3 linked regions of the Homo sapiens genome follow. The protein of the gene in region 2 purifies or fractionates together with the protein of the main gene of each other region. This does not show direct contact. Each region holds a gene or a part of one and is shown on either strand. Other genes may lie near its edges.

Region 1 (6,038 bases), on a different chromosome or scaffold from region 2:
AGAATAAATATAAGACCTTTGTTTCCAGATCTTATTATATATTTTATAATACATGTCACGTTCTATTGAGTGGCACAGGGTGAGACTCTTGAGTGTGTCTTTTTCTTGTATAAAGAGTTGAGAACTCACTTTGCAGAATATCACAAAGGAATCTGGAGGCTTGGGGCTATGTCTTTTTCACCACTGCTTCCTCCACAGTGCTATCACAATGCTTTGTACATAAATGCTTAATAAATGTTCACTAAATTTGAGAGGTTATACAGAATATACACAAAACCTCTTGATACAACATATAGATACTGTATAATATAGTTACATAGTTTCAAAATCAAGAATATTTTATTCAATGAGGTAGATAAAAATATAACTCAAAGGTAAGGCATTTTCAAAATGTCCACGTATTATGGAATTTAAAATGTATCCTAGTTTATGTTGTCAATGTTAAATGTTTTCATAACTCATATCTATTCAAGTATTTTTCAATGTTTAGAAAAAAGATTTTTATTTAGCCAAAATAACCACTAAAAAGATGTAAGGCAAAATACTTCATTTTATTTCTTAAATGCCTGAATATTTATAATCATATAAATTTTCATGCATTATATAATTTATGAGCTACTGTACTTTCACATTAATTAAAAATATTAGGAGACTCTAATTTAACCACTTCTGAAGAAATGAATGGCTGATCAGAAAATGTCAAATTACTATCATAAGCCCAAGATTTTATCATAATCATGAATAGCATTTAATCATGAATATCATTATTTAACTTTTAAAACCATACTTACAGTTTTAGATTAAAATCCCATATTGAGTCAACAAGACTTTACTCCAAATTATAGTCACATATGGAAGAAAGGTTTTAATTCAATATTTTATTATAGTCCACGTATAAAGATAATTTTCATGAGGGTTACATGATGGATAGCTAGCAAAAGAAATATGCTAGCACAGGGTGGTAACTGCCAACTAAGCATGCACTGAACCAACAGACTACTTCAGTAAGTCCTTGATTATTGCCAGCTTTTCTATAATGTTCAGGTTCTCAAAGGTCACTGAATTTTATAATTATCTCCAAACAATTTTCTTCATGGTCATTTAAGCTTTGTCTAAACAGCTGGGTGTGTTGCCAAGCGACATCACCATCTCCTCTGCTTAATTCTGCTTCCAAAATAACTTCAGTGGCACCAGAAAAATCAGCATAGGAGTGAAGACTGTTATCTGTTAGAGGGAAAAAAAAAATTAACATTTTGCTTTTGGTAATTTAAAGAGCACAGATCATTTTGAAATGTATTTTATATAGGCTGATGTATAAGTTAAAATAAACCCTTAAAAATAAATACAAATTATTCTTTATGGAAGAAATGCATCCTTTGAAACAAAGAAATGATTTTTTCCTTGCATTTGTATTTCACAACAGAAAACATCAGCCTTTCTGTTACAATGGGATCACACAGGGTTTATTAAATTTTTTTTTTTTTACTGAAATAGTATTAATAACTCTTAGGTACGAAAAAGAGCTACATCTCAAATAAGTACAATTAGTCTTCAGAGTGGTAAATATATATTTCGTGATTAATTCTCCAGGCAAATGCTTACCGCCTGTCAGTTCTACTTGTGCTGTATCAGATCGCAATTTCCATTCTACTGTTCCAGTCTGAAAAGTTTGACTACTTGTTCTAATAGAAATGCTATCTACTTTTAGGCCAACTGACCCACACTCAAACTTCCAGGAAATATAAGCAAAAGATGATCCTTCCTTTCGGGCCAAATATACCTATAAGGAGTAGGGATGGGGAGAAAGGAACTGTCAGAAAAAATGAAATAGTATAGAAAACAAACTTAGTGAAGAATATTACTGTCACAGGGTAGTATGTACAAGTGGTTATTTAAAAACTAACTTTTCCCTGTTGAAAAGGTTCTTACTGCTAACATTTTTTTTGGCAATTTTTCCCATGGCATCTTTTACCCTAGAAGACAGGTATTATTTGAATGCAGATGTCCCCAAAAAGTGCAATTCTAAAGGACTGCATTCTAACCAAATTTTGGTAAATCATCTTCTTTTATATTAAGAAGTTCAACTCTTTAAAATGAGTTTTATGACTAATCCTGCTGAAAATGAAGAATCCTTTTAAATGCAACTACTCTTTAATTTTTATAAGTCTGGATTTTCATATACGCTTTCCTAGTGTGACATGGTATGCTATAGTCTCTAAATCGAGAAAATACCTGAGCCACTGCTAACTAATGGTTTAAAAGGTGATATCCATGCTCACTTCTCTAAATAGCATGCTCCCTGTTCCTTCATCAACGCCCTTTAGCACATTAAATGTATACTATTTAAGGCATCTAAGCCTACTGGCTGCTTCCAGCTCATCCCCTCTCATACTTTTATCTACACTCCTCAAAACATTGCCATGAAAACTGACATCCACAGCCTTGGTCTTTCACAGGTCACTCTATTCAACCATGCTCAAACTCTTAAGACTCTGACGCTTCAGTCGTTCATCCCTTACGTCTGAATTCCCACAAAATTCTATGTATTTGTTTGAAATCTTGGAAAGAAACCCCTTCCTCACTAATACTGCACTTACTACTACAGTTTGAACTTTACACTTATCTTAATGCAATTGACTACTGTTGTACAATTCCAATTGCTCTGACCATATTTTTATTTTCAAGTGTATTATTTTAGACACAGGGTCTCACTCTGTCACCCAGGCTGGAATGCAGTGGTGCAATCATAGCTCACTGAAGCCTTGAACTCCTGGGTTCAAATGACCCTGTTGTCTCAGCCTCCAACTACCATGCCTGGCTAATTTAAAAAAATTTTTTAGAGGCAGGGTCTCACTATGTTGCCCAGGCTGGTCTTGAACGCCTGCCTCAGTCTCCTGAGTTGCTGAGATTGTAGGTGTGAGCTACCGTGCCTGGCTCTGATCAGATTAATGTTTTAAAATCCCACTCTCTTTATGTTATCTGCCTGGTCTGAAATGTACAGCAAGTACTTGGTTCTTACATTAAGTCTAATCTATTAGCTTTAAAAATCCTCCACAATTAGGCTGGGCACGGTGGCTCACGCCTGTAATCCCAGCACTTTGGGAGGCTGAGGCAGGTGGATCACGAGGTCAGGAGATCGAAACCATCCTAACACAGTGAAACCCTGCCTCTACTAAAAATACAAAATATTAGCTGGGCGTGGTGGCAGGCGCCTGTAGTCCCAGCTATTCAGGAGGCTGAGGCAGGAGAATGGTGTGAACCCGGGGGGCGGAGCTTGCAGTGAGCCGAGACTGCGCCATTGCACTCCAGCCTGGGCGACAGAGCAAGACTCCATCTCAAAAAAAAAAAAAAAAAAAAAAAAAAGAAAAGAAAAAATCCTCCACAATTTCATCCCACCTTGAATTGCCAATGCTCCTTTTTATTTTTTTATACTATACTCCTTTATACTGCCCATACTCTGACCTATCTTCATCAAATCATAAGCTCTCTGGGGGCACAGTTTCTGGATTCATAAAAGCATTTAGTGCCGGGCACAGTCATTCACACCGGTAATCCCAGCACTTTGGGAGGCTGAGGCAGTCGGATCACTTGAGGTTAGGTGTTCAAGACCAGCCTAGCCAACATGGTGGAACCCCATCTCTACTAAAAATACCAAAATTAGCCGGGCATGTTAGTGCACACTTGTAATCCCAGCTACTCGGGAGGCTGATACATGAATATTGCTTGAACTAGGGAGGCAGAGGTTGCAGTGAGCGGGATGGTGCCACTGCACTCCAGCCCGGGTGACAGAGCGAGACTCTGTCTAAAAAAAAAAATAAAAATAAAAACATTTAGTAAATATTATTAAAGATCTGTATACACACATATATATATATATATATTCATGTTAGACTTGATCTTTTTAGAAACATCTAACTCATACTCTAGCTCAGGGGCAAATAGTTGAAAGTACCATATAAAACACATCTGCCATGGAATATCCTATTATATGTACTATTCTGTATTCTGGTCTTTACTCATATCAAGTAAAAAAATCAATCGCCAATAGTATTCTAATCACCATCTATTTGACAACCAACCTATAGCTATTTTTCTTCCAGGTATGCCCATTAATTTAATCTGAAAATTTTTAGAATCAGTGAGTTAGAGATTATGTAACAACTGAACAATCACTCTCCAAAGAAAATGTTCTTAAACTACTCAGAGTAGATATGTATAGCCAACTGTTATTTGTTGTTGACAAACCTAGATGTGGAACTGTCAATTGCTCCACTCAAGTTTGGACAACGCCACTATAACATCCTCTGGTGTTCATATATGTTCCTACTGCATGCTCCTCTTACAGCCGCTTGTAAGGAGGATGTGGGACTCAGGACTCCACCAGTGTTCCCCGGGAGTCATTAGTTTCACCCATCCTAAACTATTAGGCATCTGGGTTACACACAGGTTAACTGCTCCTTTAAAGGAATGGCTAGCAAAGGGGGATATCTGGGAAAGAAGAGCCAAACAGAGAGGTTACTGGAAGAAAGGTGAATTAAAAGAACTAAAAGACTTAAGGAAAGTAATCTTAAGACATAAACATTAACAGATATACTCAAATTTATCTCTCAATATGCACTTCTATATCTTGTATATTTTCAGAGCTCACTAGATTCAAATGTCCCTCAAAAGTGTGGGTATAAAATATGATAGGCTGAAATTACGTTAACTTCAAATCTAGCTTACTCCAATAACTGCCTTAATTATATTGTGTGGGTCTGGGTCAGAACTGTGGTTTTAACTGTTTAAGAGAAGGTTTATAGTAGCTGTTGAACATGTCTGACAGCATTTATTAAAGCCTTAAAATTTTCAGTCCTAAAGGCATCATCAGCTTTTAAGACTCTAGAAAGTTAAAGAATAAGATAGAGTTCATGATTTAATACTTAAATGTTTAAACATTCAAACATACTATGAGCAAAATAAAAAAGGTCTCTTATGTTAAAGAACAGTATATGGAGATAAAACACCCTATTTATACAGAAAATTCCTATCATCTTTTTTTGCACAATATATTCTGTCAAAGACTCATTTTTAGAGGTGGTAGAAAGTTACCAAGAATATGTATACTCAGTTTAGTAAATTAAAATGTACCACAACAATAGAATTTATAAAAAACCTCCAACTCTGATCCCACTATGTATAATATGAACACAATCAGTAACTATAATTTATTTAAAAGGAAAAAAAAAAGCAAACATTCACTTGTTTAGTGTAGAGAAAAAAAATTTTTTTTACAACTGTTGATTGTTCCTAACATCGTGAGTTATTTGATAGACATATTTTTGCCTGTTGGCTTTAAAAAATTTTTTTTAAATTTATTGTGTGCATTCTGTAAGCTCGGTTTTGTAATGTGTAGGTCTCTAAAAGGTGAGTGTTGCTATCCTACTTTAGCAGGAGTGCTAGTAAAGTCAGAAATCATGGAGGTTTTCTCCTGTATTCTATATATACCACCCAACCCCTCCTCCCACCAGTGACCCATCCTTGCTCCTTGTTGTAAGCACATATGAGCATATACACCCTTTGCGTGAGAACAAGACCTGTGTGTCTACGGTTTAGGCATAAGCCATACTATTCACAATATATAAAAATAGAACTTGTCTTTAGGTTGTGGCTGTAACCACTATTTTCAGGACTGAGAACAATTTGCATGTTGGCTTTATGTAACTAATATTCTACAGAAGATTTTGCTCAAAGATTTTTTGATTACTACATGTCAGGCTGCTATGGCTCCCTAGAGGTTCAGTTTGGACTATATTGTTTGAAGCTCTTCTTTAATACACTCTTAAAATTATTGTTCTACTGAGGCTGCTAAGATTCACTCAAGTTCAGTTCACCATACAGCAAGCACCCTGAAGTCCGTCATTCCCACAGATACCCAGCAAAGCAGCTGTATTTCAAGGAATCTCAAATTGTTGCTGGTAAACCGGTACTTGCAATGAGTCTTGTTTTTGGTTATTCCATTTTATGTTGAAAATCAAACATGAATCCACTTGTAGTTC
Region 2 (7,973 bases):
AATGCCATTCATTCATTTCTTTTTATGGCTGAGTAGTATTCCATCATATATATATGATGTTTATCCACTCATTGATTGGCATTTGGGCTGGTTCCACATTTTTGCAATTGCGAATCTGCCCCCACCCCCAATCTGGTTAAATTGGATTTGTCCTTTAAGATTCCCCGTGATTGGCTGGGGGCAGTGGCTCACACCTGTAATCCCAGCACTTTGGGAGGCCGAGGCAGGCAGATCACGAGGTCAAGAGATTGAGACCATCCTGGCCAACCAACATGGTGAAACCCCTTCTCTACTAAAATACAAAAATTAGCCGGGCGTAGTGGCACACACCTGTAGTCCCAGCTACTTGGCAGACTGAGGCAGGAGAATGGCATGAACCTGGGAGGCGGAGCTTGCAGTGAGCTGAGATGGCGCCACTGCACTCCAACCTGGGCGGCAGAGCGAGACTCCGTCTCAAAAAAAAAAAAAGATTCCCCAAGGTTGTCCCTTGTTCTGTGAAGCCTCCTCCCCTCCTCACACCTACTTGCCCATCTCATTCCCTACACTGCTCTGTGGCAGCTCACTCTGGCTTCGTTTGTGTGCTTGTCAACTCTATTTTCAGATTGTGAATGACTTTAGGGCACAGACGATGTCTTGCTCCTCTTCAGGTGCCTGGCTCCTACTATACAGCCTGGAACATAGAAATGTTTAAAAAATATTTGCTGAATTAAATAGAAAAAATGAAGAAAAAGAAAAAAGAGGCACCTGGAGATGTTTTGTCCAGGTCTTAGCTGGTGGAAGGGACCTTGGGCTGTGAGCGTGCTTGAGTCTGGTCTGCCCAGCTGGCAGCCCCCACACCACCCTGCAAGTCCACATGGGATGAGGGGCACCCCTAATGTACCCAACTGGACGTGGGGGCCACCTACCAGACACGCAGCCTATGACAGAATCTCCTGCCCCTCAGAACCTCAACGCCAGTTTCTGGGATGCTGTTAATGCCCTCCCAGCCCTTTACACAACAGATACTATACACAGCACGGACAGAAGAAATTGATCCTTTGACGTTTCCATTTCCTAAGAGTTTTACAAAAATGACTTTCGGGCCGGGCACAGTGGCTCACGCCTATAATCCTAACACTTTGGGAGGCCAACGGGGGTGGATCACTTGAGGTCAGGAGTTCAAGACCAGCCTGGCCAATATGGTGAAACCCTGTGTCTATTAAAAATACAAAAATTAGCCGGGCGTGTTGGCACACCCCGGTAATCCCAGCTACTCAGGAGGCTGAGGCAGGAGAATCGCTTGAACCTGGGAGGCTGAGGTTGCAGTGAGCCAAGATCAGGCCATTTCAATCTACACTCGAGCTTAGGCAACAGAGTGAGACTCCATCTAAAAATAAATAAATAAACTAGCCTGGTGTGGTAGTACACACCTGTAGTCCCAGCTACTCAGGAGGCTGAGGTGGGAGGACTGCTTGAGCCCAAGAAGTCGAGGCTGCAGTGAGCGATGATTGCACCACTGTACTCCAGTCTGGGCAACAGAATGGGATCCTGTCTCTAAATAATAATAGAATTACATAACAAAACTTTTTTGGGTGATAAAAAAAATCCTAAAACTGGATAATGGTGATGCTGGAATATCGCTGTGCATTTACTACAAATCATTGCATTGTACACTTAGGAGAATTTTACAGTATGTAAATTTTATCTTAATAAAGTTTAAAAAAAAACCTTCCAATGGCTTACTATTTCACTTTGGCTGAAATCCATACTCATTTCCCTGGATCCCTGCATGTACGATCTGGCCTTGCCTTGGCCCTCCCACTTCAACCCTGCTCACCACCTCCAACCCCTCCCCCACGGCCCTCCTCTCCCACCAGGTGGCTCTTCCTGCTGCACCTCCCAAGCTGTTTCCCACTTCAGGCTCTGGCCCAGATCTGCACACAGCCGCATCTTTTCTTTCCTTCAATCACAGTCTAAAGGGGCTTGGAGAGGCTTCCCTGCCACACCTGCAACATCCTTCTCTCGCAGTCCTGCCCTTTGCTTCTTGCATTCATCACATAACTGTTTCATGTCTGTTTCCCCTTGAAAAGCTAAGCTCCATGAAGGCAGGGATCAGCTGCAACGGAGCACATACGAGGTGCTCAGCCTGTTGAACACACAAATGATGGTAGAACTCAAATGAGGATGCTAAGAGGGGACAAAAGTATTCCAGGCTGAAGAGCAAAAAAGAAAACCCTTGGCTTCTTAGCAGCTTTGGCTAGAACTGTGGATATGGGCTGCTCTGTTCAAATGCAGAATTTCTGTGGCACCCGTTATGTGCTTAGAAAAACTTGGCAAAGGAGTAGCAAACCTCAAAGTAGGGAGAAAACCAAAGTCAGAACTTGCCAAAGACTGCCTGTTCCTGCAACTCCTAACTGAGGCAGAAAAAAAGAGCGCTTCCGGAGGCAGGGAGTAGGCGTCAGGCCTGGGCTCCTCTGCTGGTTATTTTTAGCAGCCCAATGCAAAGCTCAGAAAGATATACTCCCTTCACATCAATATATTGGTCATTTAAGCCTCTAGGAGGAGCAGTCATTTTGTACATGGTTAAAGTGAACTAGGAGCGTCAGAGCTGTTCCCGGGACCCCTTTGAGGTCCCTGAATTGTATTAGTTTCCAAAAGCAAGGCATCAGCATGGCCATGTTCTCTGTCAAAGCTCAAGAGTCTCTCCCACGCCTCTCTCCTAGCTCTTGGTGGCTGCTAGCCTTCTTTGCATTCTTTGACTTATGACTGCATCAGTCCAATCTCTGCCTGTGTTCATATGAGCTTCTTTCCTCTGTGTGTATTTGTGTCTTTTACAAGAACACCAGTCAGATTGGATTCAGGGCCCACCCTACTCCAGAATGACCTCATCTTAACTAATTACATCTGCAAAGACCCAATTTCCAAACAAGTTCACATTCTGAGGTTCTGGTAAGGACATGAGTTTGGGGGGACACTCTCTAACTGAGTTCACTAACCCTCACCGTGGACTGGCTCAAAGGAGCAGTGGCTCAAAGAGGGGCCTGAGATCAAGCACCAGAAGTGCTGACTGTGGATGAAAAGGGGCTGGCCTGGCCCCTATCTGTGTCCCCCCATACCTGTGGTAGTGAGGGAGAAGGAAAAGAAAAATCCGTTGGGGAAAATTCTGACCTCAGAAGTGGCCTGCCTGAAAAGTCATAGAAACTGGCAAAAATAAAGCAACCTGGGAAAAAACTCAGGCTGGACCTGCACGGAGATAAGCAGACAGGGTCCAGCGCAGAAGCCCTTTGTTCTTTGCATAATTAGCAGGCTCCCGGGAAAAAGTTTCCTCTCCTTTTCAGGCATATACACAGTGGGCTCCATGGAAACCGGCACAGGGAGGAGGGGGCCTTATCTAAAACAAACCCACAGTTACACAAACAAGAGAAGCAGCGATTTGCACTTGCCTAGAGACATACCCACAGCTGCATAACATAAGGGGAGCTGCACAGGCAGTTTTACTGGTAAGAAGTTACTCAGTTACCAGGAGGAGAGCAGTGTCCTATAAAAGTTTTTTGCGGCCAGGCACAGTGGCTCACGCCTGTAATCCCAGCACTTTGGGAGGCGGAAGGAGGCGGATCACCTGAGGTCAGGAGTTTGAAACCAGCCTGGCCAACATGGTAAAATTTCGTCTCTACCCAAAATACAAAAATTAGCAGGGCGCAGTGACGTGTGCCTGTAATCCCAGCTACTCGGGAGGCTGAGGCAGGAGAATCATTTGAACCCAGGAGGCAGAGGTTGTTGAGGTTGCAGTGAGCCAAGATCGCACCATTGCACTCCAGCCTGGGTGACAAGAGCAAAACTCTGTCTTAAAAAAAAAAAAAAAAAAAGCTTTTTGCATTCAGCTGTAACCCGACAATCCACTCGGACTCCCGTCTCCACTTTGGAGAGCTTTCTTCTTTCCCTTATTAAACGTTCGCTCCAACCCCACCCTTGTGTCCACGCTCCTTAGTTTTCTTGGAGGTAGGACAAAGAACCCCGGGACTAGTTCAGACAAGGAGAAACTGCTATATTAAGGTGCACTGGCAAGACCGCAACAGTATCAAGCCAATTAGACTTGCCGTGGCTCCTGGAATGGCCCACGCACTGCACTGGCACCAAGACACCACCCAACCCTGGACACTGCACTGGGACAGGAGGCCTGAAGAGAAGAATCCTCTCAAAGGAAGCTTGAAGTACATGCTACAAAATAAACTGGCTTCTATACTCAGGGCCAGCTTCATGGGCTCACTCAGAAGGTCCCTGGCTTGCTGCAACCATTTGCTCTGACCATCTTGAAATTCTTAATAGTTTTCTGGGTTTTTTAGTAAGTGTCCCCACGTTTTCATTTTGCATTGAGTCACACAAATCATGTAGCTGGGCTGTCTTCAAAAATGTCAAGGTAGTAAAAGACAAAAGGCTGAGGAGCCTTCCAGATGAAGAGATCAAAGAGACATGACAACTAAAAGCAACTCCTGGGTTACAGGGTCAGGGGCGGACAAAAAGGAAAAGAAAAAAAAAGACATTAGAGGGACAATTGAAGGTTAGCTGTGGATGACATCACAGAAATGTCAATGGGAGTTGTCCTAATGATATTTGCCCTGTGGTTAAGAAAATGCCCTTGTTCTTAGGAGATTCATGGCGAGGTATGGGGTAAAGGATCATGACATCTGCAATTTGGTTGCCATTGGTTCAGGAAAAAAAAAAAACAAAGTACAAATGATTGAGTAAATCAGGCAAGCCTAAACCACTGCTAAACATGAATAACAGTTCTACGAGAGTTCTTTATGCTCTCCTTGCAACTTCCTGTAGGTTTGAGATTACCTGGAGATAAAAAGTTAACATCACCAGCACCGCCCGCCAGCCCGCCAGCCGAAAAGAGCGCAGGTAATTCAGTCCGAGCTGAAAGCGGCCACCCTGGGACTTGAGTCACGTGAGGCGAGCCCACATGACCCGAGGCCCCGGTCCAATATGGCGACCTCCACGGGTCGCTGGCTTCTCCTCCGGCTTGCACTATTCGGCTTCCTCTGGGAAGCGTCCGGCGGCCTCGACTCGGGGTGAGTGCAGCTCCCTGGGCCAGCCTGGTTCGGGGGGTCCCCCCTGTCCTCCGAGCTCACGAGGACAGCCCCCTGAGCTCACGGCCGCCCGTCCCCGCAGGGCCTCCCGCGACGACGACTTGCTACTGCCCTATCCACGCGCGCGCGCGCGCCTCCCCCGGGACTGCACACGGGTGCGCGCCGGCAACCGCGAGCACGAGAGTTGGCCTCCGCCTCCCGCGACTCCCGGCGCCGGCGGTCTGGCCGTGCGCACCTTCGTGTCGCACTTCAGGGACCGCGCGGTGGCCGGCCACCTGACGCGGGCCGTTGAGCCCCTGCGCACCTTCTCGGTGCTGGAGCCCGGTGGACCCGGCGGCTGCGCGGCGAGACGACGCGCCACCGTGGAGGAGACGGCGCGGGCGGCCGACTGCCGTGTCGCCCAGAACGGCGGCTTCTTCCGCATGAACTCGGGCGAGTGCCTGGGGAACGTGGTGAGCGACGAGCGGCGGGTGAGCAGCTCCGGGGGGCTGCAGAACGCGCAGTTCGGGATCCGCCGCGACGGGACCCTGGTCACCGGGTGAGGAGGCAGGGAGCCCCGTGCTGTCGAGGGCAGAGGGCCTGAGATTTGGGTTGTAGCCGTGCCTCCGTGTTCAAGTCACTTAACCAAGCTGAGCCCCTGTTTCCTCCTCTGCAGAATGGGGATAGGAATCGCTTCCTTGCAGAGTTTATTCATCATCCAGTATCATTGAGCACTTGCTTGTATCAGGCAATGTGCCGCGCCCCGGTGAGATAGCCGTGAACAACACAGTCTTTGCCTTAACAGCCCTCCCCCATTACTAGAAAAATCAACAAAAGCCGGGTAAATAGCTAACATACATTCTGATTGCTGTGTGTGCAGCAAAGCAACCAACGGGGTGAACCCGTTGTAAATAGTGTTGATTTTAGGGAGGGTGATCTGGAACACGCCTCTCCGAGGTGACCTTTGAGTGGGAACTTGAAGATGAATCACTAAGTGAGCCAAGGTCAGAACTGGAGGAAGAGCGTTTCAGTCCAAAGGAACCCCACGCACAAAGGCTCAGAGGCTCAGGGGGGCTTGTGTGTATGAGGGACTGAAAAAGGAGTGGGGTGTCAGAAACATCAACTCATCAAGACTGATGATTTTTTTTTTTTTGAGACAGAGTCTTGCTCTGTTGCCCAGGATGGAGGGCAGTGGCATGATACCGGCTCACTGCAACCTCTGCCTCCCGGGTTCAAGCGATTCTCCTGCCTCAGCCTCTGGAGTAGCTGGGACTACGGACGTGTGCCACCACGCCCGGCTGATTTTTGTATTTTTAGTAGAGACGGGATGGGGTGGGGAACGGGGGAGTGGGTTCACCATATTGGCCTGGCCGGTCTCGAACTCCTGACCTCAAGTGATCCACCCACCTCAGCCTCCCAAAGTGCTGGGATGACAGGTGTGAGCCACCACGCCCTGGCAAGATTGATGATTTGAATTATTTAAAATTATCTTAAAAATTATTTGAGTCTCAAAAAAAAAGTATTTGTTGATGATAAAGCTTGTTCTGATCCTGAGTGGGACCAGGTGGGAGAGAGCAGTGGAGAAACAAGGAAGCCAATGAAGGGCCGTAACAGGGATCAAGTGGTAGTTGGGCTGGGTATGGCCTGGGGATTGAGGGCCATAGATGGATTTGAGCTCTGTTGGGGGATGGTCATTTCTGTTAAATGAAACAGACTGTTTGCAAAGGCTTGTGGGGATTGTATTGTCAGAACCCTGTCCAGCTTCAGCTCTGACAACAGGGAGATTCCTAGGGCTGTTAAGTTGTCCCAGCTACACTCAGGCCCCAGGAGGTTCCTGGGGCATGAGGGGGAATCTAGCAGCCAGGTTGGGATGGCTAGGGAGAAAGAGCCTGACTATCTGCAGTTGCCCCTGCTGGTGAGTGAGCTTCCCACCTTCCCCGGATCCAGGTACCTGTCTGAGGAGGAGGTGCTGGACACTGAGAACCCATTTGTGCAGCTGCTGAGTGGGGTCGTGTGGCTGATTCGTAATGGAAGCATCTACATCAACGAGAGCCAAGCCACAGAGTGTGACGAGACACAGGAGACAGGTTGGATGGGGAGGCTGTTGGCAACAACCCTCTCGAGAACCAGGACCAGTGGGCTGGGCGGAGCTGTTCTTAAGTCTTTCAACAAGTATTGAGCAGCTACTTTGTGCCCAGCACTATTCTGGGTACTGGGGATTCATGGGGAGGAAGATAGGCTTATATTGAATATATAGGACAAAAAATAGTTATAGAATATGCTGAAAAGAATTGATAAGTGCTCAGAAACAAAAATAAAGTTAGGGGAAAGGGGAGAGATGGGGACCGGAGCTGTGGGTACAGGAAGAGAAAAGTGAAGAGAAAAAAATCTTCATGGACCTGCAACATCGGCGTGGCCCAGGAGCTTGTTTCAAAGCCCCACACCCTCAGACCTGCAGAATCAGAGGCAAGGCCCAAGAGTCTATGTTTTAACGGGCCTCCATGGTGACTCTGACCGACACTCAAGGTTGAGAACCACTGGGATGCAGAATACTGGGATGGGGACAGGATACCATGACCATTTTAGAGTGGGCAGTAAGCTAGGTGTGGTGGCTAACACCTATAATCCCAGCACTTTGGGAGGCCGAGGCGGGAGGATCGGTTGAGCCCAGGAGTTCAAGACCTGCCTGGGCAACATAGTGAGACCTATCTCTACAAAAAAAAAAAATACAAAAATTAGCCAGGCATGGTGGTGTGTGCCTGTAGTCCCAGCTACTTGGGAGGCTGAAGCATGAGAATTGCTTGAACCTGGGAGGTGGAGGTTGCAGTGAGCTGAGATCATGCCACTGCACTCCAGCCCGGGCAACACAGCGAGACTCTTTGTCTCAAAAAAAAAAAAAGAGTGGGCGGTCAAGGAAGGCCTCAC
Region 3 (7,038 bases), on a different chromosome or scaffold from region 2:
GGTATATTTTCCCCGAAATAAATTTATCAAATTTCAGAAAACGATAGAAAAACTTTTAAAAATGTGTCTTCATTTTTACCATTTTGTAAATAACTTTTCCTTAAAAAACAGAAAGAACTTGTGAAAAATTAGCCAAGATTTTTATGAGCAAAGATTGTTTTTCCAAAAACACAAAATTTCATCCCCAAAGAAAAAAATACTAAGCAAATATAAGCAAAGAGGCAAACCAAAAAGATTCTCTCCTCACATTAAAGCACATAAATCTTTAAAATTGAAAGACACAGAGATCGTTTTTACTCTATAATAGCACTGACACATAGTTCATAATGACTGAAGGAAATCATCAGACAGTATCAAATTGAGGCTGCTTACAAAAATCAAGGTTGTCAAACAGGCATTCTAATAGGACTTATTTCACAAAATAAAAAGTTTAGCCAATTCTTCCAAACATAGTCATAAGATATACAAATACTAAATTCGGCCAGAATTTTTATCACAAAATTACTTGATAATCTTTGTGTAAAATTTTATTAACATTAACTTAAAAAGATAATCAGATTCTCATTGTATGTTCAGTCCTATACAAAGAACCACAGGTTCCCTGTTTGTACACAAAAATCTATAAATTCAAAAATCCTTTAAGACCAAATTCTACAGAAAAACCCTCAAAATGTTTAAAATCCTGGTAATAATAATCGTAAGGTATACCTTTAACTGTTAACCATGAATTGCATCCTGGCTACACAGACAAAATGGACCTAGCTGCCTTTTATAAAACGTTCAGTAATGCTGTCCACTAGGAGGTTAAATGCTGGGGTGGCCAAAGCCATCATTCAGTCCTGAAATCTACCCTAAAGTCTAAGAAGAGTTCCCCAAGAGGTAATAACAGGAGGTTAAAAAAAAAAAAAAACAGTCACCAGGCTTGAATACATACTTGAGCACACAACTGGTGTTCTTCTTTTTCTATATTATTTTTCAACTTTGAAAAAAAATTAATCAAAAAATTGATAAACTATTAATCATAAAAAATACTTATTTTAGATCCTGCAACTAACAGAAAGTAAAATTTTAAAAGGATATGAGGTCCAGCAATGAACTGTGTGTCCTGTCATTCATACACAGCTGGGCTACCATCTCGGCCCTGAGAATCTCATCATCAGACATTCCTAAAATTATTAAAAACGGAATTAACAAATCTGAGTATACATAAATTATAAAGAAAAAAACTTACCACACTTTTTACTAAGCTGTTTTACCAAATATAAGATGCTTCAAATTAAAGAGTAAAGAAGCTATGCTCCAAACATAACTGCAGTTTAACTGCTGTTTGCAGTTCCCTTAAGCAAAGGATATTCTAAAAGGTATACCTACAGTACAACATATCAAGAGTTTGAAACATTGTTTACATTTATCTACATCCTTTCCTTTTTTCCCTAAGCCAGTTACTACCACAGGGAGGGGGAGAAAGGGAGGAAAACAGTTAATGCATAAGTATTAGTATCAGTGAGTTTTACCTAAATGTAAACGAAGACTCAAAAGAATCACAAGAAATGTAAGAGCGCCTTCTAACATCGACCTCTCATGCTCTGCATCAAGTACTGTATTTTGATGTTGTGATGCCATTGTCAACAAATCCACTACCTTAAATCTACAAGAAGAAATATTTGAAACATATTTTTATAAATTAAAACAAAATTAACTGGACACTTCCTAATACCTGTCTTAATAAAATTATGCCTACCTTTCAAAGACGGATGAAATAAAATAATCTGGGTCAAGTCTAGAAGCACAAACCTTTAAAAGAAAACAAAATGCTTTATTTCTCAATATTCAGTTTTCCTTCTTCTATTAATCATGTTTTTCTATACTTTTTTTTGTTTTTTGTTTTTTGTTTTTTGTTTTTGAGACAGAGTCTCACTCTCACCCAAGCTGGTGCAACCTCAGCTCACTGCAACCTCCACCTCTGCCTCCCAGGCTCAAGCAATTCTCATCCCCCAGTCTCCCGAGTAGCTGGGATTTACAGGTGTGTGCCACCACACCTGCCTAATTTTTGTATTTTTAGTAGAGACAGGGTTTCGACGTGTTGGCCAGGCTGGTCTCAAACTCCTGGCCTCAAGTGATCTGCCTGCCTTGGCCTCCCAGAGTGCTGGGATAACAGGCATGAGCCACCACGCCTGGCTATGATTTTTATTTTCTGTATATTATGATGTTTTGACATCTTGAGGGGCATTACAGACCTGAAGACAGATAGTCCCTCCCAGAGCCAGTTAATTCCTGAACATACTAAACAACTTACTTGGGAAAATGCCTGTCATGCAAGCCAACCACTGTCTTTATCTAACTCTCACACATCAACCCAGTATTTCCCCTCCCCTAAATCAACCCAGGGCCAGGTACCGCAGAGCCAGATACAGCCCCTATGCCTCAAAGCCTGCTGGAATTATTCAAATTAGCCAATCCTGCCTTGCCTTTCCTTGCCTTTCCTGCAGAAACCCCAATAAAGGCTCTGGCCTAGGCTCTCCCCTCACTCCTTTCTGCCTCTTGACCAAAATCTGGTGCTTTCCTTGTAGCCTTGTGTTGGGTGGTATGCCTCTTCTCCTGGGAAATGTAAGTAAAAAATTATTCTTTCAATGGCATTGGCCTCTCCATGTCATCACGCAGTCACCTCTATAAATTAAAATCCCTTGGGTACAAATGAGACACTTCTAAAGTATATCTGCATTATCTAGCTGGCTTACCTGTAACAGGTAAATGTCAGGATCAATCATGGAATTACAGAAATGAGACTGGACATACGTCATGGCTTGTCCTTTGATTTGCAGACCATTTCTTACCCACATATTGCTGTGGATTTCTGCAAGACTTGCCTAATAAAAGTAAATTGGACAAAGAATAAATTATCTAAATGCAATCTTTACAAAATATTATAAATAACCATTTCAAAATATTTAATGATGTGATCATAGTATAAGCCCGATATTCTGTCCAATGTTAAAGATAATCAGTTGAAATATACATTTTTACATTTTTTTTAACAATAATTATGTTTTTACATAGCCACTTTTTTAGAGTTTAAACAAATGAGTTGGTTTTCCATGTTGGCCTCTGGATACATTTATGATGATTTTCACTGACATCTTTCATAAGAAATCAATGCTTATGTTTCACTCTATTTCTCCCTCAAGAAAACCCTAAGTAACAACAACAACAATCCTAATATACATGTTTAAAGAAAGACACTAGAATAAGCATAAAATAAAACCAACTGTTCAAAGTCAATGAATACATTCTACATCTTTAATTCACCCTAACTCAATCTTAAATCTATACTGCTAATTTTCCAAATATTGGAGGTTAGAATAAATGTTCTCACTACATCAGTATTTAATTCTTCATGTATTTATGTCCAGTGTCAACTAAAACTAGGCAGTCATCATTTTTTTTGTTTTTTTTGAAACAGAATCTCACTCTGTCGCCAGACTGGAGTGCAGTGGCGCGATCTTGGCCCACTGCAACCTCTGTCTCCCAGGTTCAAGCAATTCTTCTTGCCTCAGCCTCCCGAGTAGCTGGGACTACAGGTGCACGCCACCATGCCCAGCTAATTTTTGTATATTCAGTAGAGACAAGGTTTCACCATGTTGGCCAGGATGGTCTCGATTTCTTGACCTCGTGATCTGCCCGCCTTGGCCTCCCAAAGTGCTGGAATTACAGGCGTGAGCCACCACACCTGGCTTCAAGCAGTCATAATTTTATGTTTCCTAACACCCAGAGTTCAAGTTCAATATTATAATAATTAACAAATCTAAAATTGCCAGGAAAAACAAATGGAAGTGCAAGTCCCTCTAATGTATATAAAAAGCTGGCCTGTCAAATTACATTGCTGGTATTAAAAGAAATCACAGTGCTTATATAAGCTAATTCTTCTCTCCTCTTTCTCCTCTCACTATACAGATAGGGAAACTGAGAATCAAGGAGGTGAATTACCTTAAACCTTGCGGAAAATAAAACAGTGGTAGCACCAAGGCTAGAATCTTTTGGATCTCCTGACTCCCAAAACAGTGCTATATAGTATGTTAAATACCACCCCATAAGCAAATATCATGAAAAGAATTCCTGGAAAAAGTAAAACTAAAAAGTAAATCTCATAAAATGAAAAATACCTAAACATAATCTAGCAAAAATACAATAACAACTTTTTAAAAAAAGTTTTCAAACATCTCAGCTATAATAACAATGAAAGGCATATAAATAAAGGAAGAATCACTTAAACAAGGAATCCACTTCAAAACTTTTTAAATGCCTGAATACATACTTGAATTTGGAGTGGGTGAATCATTAGTTTCATTAACATTTCCTGATCTGGTAAAACAGAATCCAAATCTAGTTCTTGACATTTCACAGCCTAAAAATTACAATAAAAAAGTTACTAATTCAATTCTTATTTCTGAAAATTAAAAAAAAAAGAACAGAATTGTTTAATGACAGTCTTACCTTACTCAAAAACATAGCATAGTAACGATGTAGTGGCAGATGAAAAGTGACTTGGTTAGGTGCTGGCTGGAATAAACAAACAAAATGCACAAGTCAAAGACTATTTTATAGAAATTTTAAGATGGTTGTAAAATGTTTAAACCATACTCTCACCTGGATTTATTCCTATACTTTTAGTTCAAAACTTAACATTTTAGAAGATGCAGATTCCAAAATCACTATAGATAAAATTTTTCCATTTTAAACACTTAAGTATAAGTTTCTTGAAGGCAGAAATTGTATTCTACTCAACTTTGAATCCTCTGAAGCATCCAGTACAGATTAATATTTCCTAAATTCAATTCAGCTAAAGCAAATAATTATTATTAAAACAAGGGATGGAATGGATTTCCAGCTACAGTAGACCATTTGGGACTCTTCAAACGCATGTATACCAAACATCATGACAGTAATAACAGTCACATATAACATTCATTGAACACTTCCTATGTGCCAGTCACCATGCTAAGCACTTTATTCACATTACCACATTTAATCCTCAGAAGAATGCTATGGGGTAGGAGCTACTAATATTCTCATTCTACAAGTAGCAAAATTCAAACTTAGAAAACTTAACTAACTTCCTAAAGTTCAAAAGTAGTGAACTGGGGAGCTAATCTGGACTCCACTGTCATATTCAAAACTGTAAGAAGACTCTGACCACATCCCTAAACAGAGGTATAAATGCAGGGCATCGTTAGATTCCTTCACCAGTTAGATAAGATGCTTCCAAACAGTACCAAACGCACCAGCCTCCATAACAAAACTTCATAAAAAATATGTGAATGACCTTAGGCATTCCTGTAAATATTACAAAAACTGTATTTTAAATCTGTGAATCCCATGGATCACAAAATCACTACAGGGCAAAAATACACCACAGCTGTCCTTCTTAAACAAATGAGTTAAGAACTGAAAAGGTATTGTTTGTTTTTAATGCTTTTTAAGTTCTTATTAAATATTCTCTTGTTAAAAATGTTTATCCCGGACATTCAGATAATTATGCTAATGTATATAATTTACATTATAGAGGTTATAAGGAGTCTAAATATGTCACCATCCCTGAAATAATTATTTTTTTCAAAACCAGTAAGATAATAATATCCTCTTCAATATGTAAAGGCTATAAAAATTTGTTCTAATAAATAAAAGTTTGCCCTCCATAAAAAGAAAGGAAAGTCTAACAATGTTCTGTAACATGAATAAACCTTCGGGATATTATGCTAAGTAAAATAAGCCAGTCACAAAAAGACAGTAACTATATGATTCCACCTATATGAGGTTCTTAGAGCAGCCAAATTCGTAGAGATACAAAGTAGAATGGTGGTTGCCAGAAGCTGGGGGAAGAGGAAATGGGGAGTAGCTATTTAATGAGTATAGTTTCAATTTTATGAGATAAAAAAGTTATGGAGATTGGCTGCACGACAATACAAATACACATAACACTACTGAACTATACACTTAAAAATGATTAAGATAGTGAATTTTATGTTTTCTGTGTATTTTACCACAATTAAAAATAAAATTTTAAAAAGTTTGCCCTCCATTACCATAATCGCCTTAGTAACATATTCTACACTAACTAGCTAAGTCAGAATCTCCCTCAATTTCCTTTGAGGCACTAAGCACAGTGGATAAGTGCAGACTCTTTTTTTTTTTTTTTTTTTAAATAGACAGGGTCTCACTCTGTGGCCCAGGGTGGAGTATGGTGGCACGATCACAGTTCGCTGCAACCTCCACCTCCCGGGCTCAAGTCATCCTCCCTCCTCGGCCCCCTGAGCAGCTGGGACTACAGACACACACCACCATGCCTGGCTAATTTCTGTTTTTGGTAGAGACAGGGTTTTTGCCATGTTGCCCAGACTGCTCTCGAACTCCTGGGCTCATGCAATCTGCCCGCCTCAGCCTCCCAAAGGATTGGAATTATAGACGTGAACCACCAGGCCCAGCCTAGGTGCAGACCCTTTTTTTGAGTCTCGCACTGTCCCCCAGACTGGAGTACGGTGGCGCGATCTCAGCTCACTGCAACCTCTGCCTCCCGGGTTCAAGCAATTCTCCTGCCTCAGCCTCCTGAGTAGCTGGGACTACAGGCATGTATTACCACACCGGCTAATTTTTGTATTTTTAGTAGAGACAGGGTTTCACCATGTTGCCCAGGCTGGTCTCAAACACCTGACCTCAAGTGATCCACCTGCCTCGGCCTCCCAAAGTGCTGGGACCAAAGGCGTGAACCACTGTGCCTGCTTCCTAAGTGCAGAATCCTGGTTCTACCACCCAGCTGTAAAACTATGGGCAAGTTACCTCTCTGTGCCTAAGTTGTCTGATCCTTAAAGTAGGAATAATAAAGAGTTTAGTAGCTGCGAGAAATAAGTAAAACAGCACAGTACCCAGTACATATTGCTATTAACTAGTAAGCCATGGACCCTATTTTATCTTTCAGGGCTTTAGCATATCCTATGTTCACATTCTCCATAACGTTAAAGTCCATATTCCTTCCTTGTCTAATGT

Evidence for each region.
Region 1: the proteins of NAGPA (region 2) and NGLY1 purify together in Homo sapiens (affinity purification with mass spectrometry; 2 studies listed by BioGRID and IntAct, with this or other methods). This does not show direct contact.
Region 3: the proteins of NAGPA (region 2) and UBR3 purify together in Homo sapiens (affinity purification with mass spectrometry; 2 studies listed by BioGRID and IntAct, with this or other methods). This does not show direct contact.

The regions. Positions count from the first base shown.
Region 1 is NC_000003.12:25,718,412-25,724,449, forward strand, and holds the end of NGLY1 (peptide-N(4)-(N-acetyl-beta-glucosaminyl)asparagine amidase), read right to left. Parts: intron 4,489-6,038; coding exon of another isoform or gene 4,324-4,488; exon of another isoform or gene 4,266-4,323; intron 1,781-4,265; coding exon 1,603-1,780; intron 1,225-1,602; coding exon 1,049-1,224; 3' UTR 533-1,048; downstream 1-532. UniProt on the Homo sapiens protein: Specifically deglycosylates the denatured form of N-linked glycoproteins in the cytoplasm and assists their proteasome-mediated degradation. Cleaves the beta-aspartyl-glucosamine (GlcNAc) of the glycan and the amide side chain of Asn, converting Asn to Asp.
Region 2 is NC_000016.10:5,030,907-5,038,879, reverse strand, and holds the start of NAGPA (N-acetylglucosamine-1-phosphodiester alpha-N-acetylglucosaminidase precursor), read left to right. Parts: upstream 1-4,944; 5' UTR 4,945-4,965; coding exon 4,966-5,051; exon of another isoform or gene 5,052-5,151; coding exon 5,152-5,607; intron 5,608-6,995; coding exon 6,996-7,135; intron 7,136-7,973. UniProt on the Homo sapiens protein: Catalyzes the second step in the formation of the mannose 6-phosphate targeting signal on lysosomal enzyme oligosaccharides by removing GlcNAc residues from GlcNAc-alpha-P-mannose moieties, which are formed in the first step.
Region 3 is NC_000002.12:169,921,448-169,928,485, reverse strand, and holds part of UBR3 (E3 ubiquitin-protein ligase UBR3), read right to left. Parts: intron 4,558-7,038; coding exon 4,492-4,557; intron 4,403-4,491; coding exon 4,313-4,402; intron 2,868-4,312; coding exon 2,739-2,867; intron 1,795-2,738; coding exon 1,742-1,794; intron 1,649-1,741; coding exon 1,515-1,648; intron 1,167-1,514; coding exon 1,081-1,166; intron 1-1,080. UniProt on the Homo sapiens protein: E3 ubiquitin-protein ligase which is a component of the N-end rule pathway. Does not bind to proteins bearing specific N-terminal residues that are destabilizing according to the N-end rule, leading to their ubiquitination and subsequent degradation.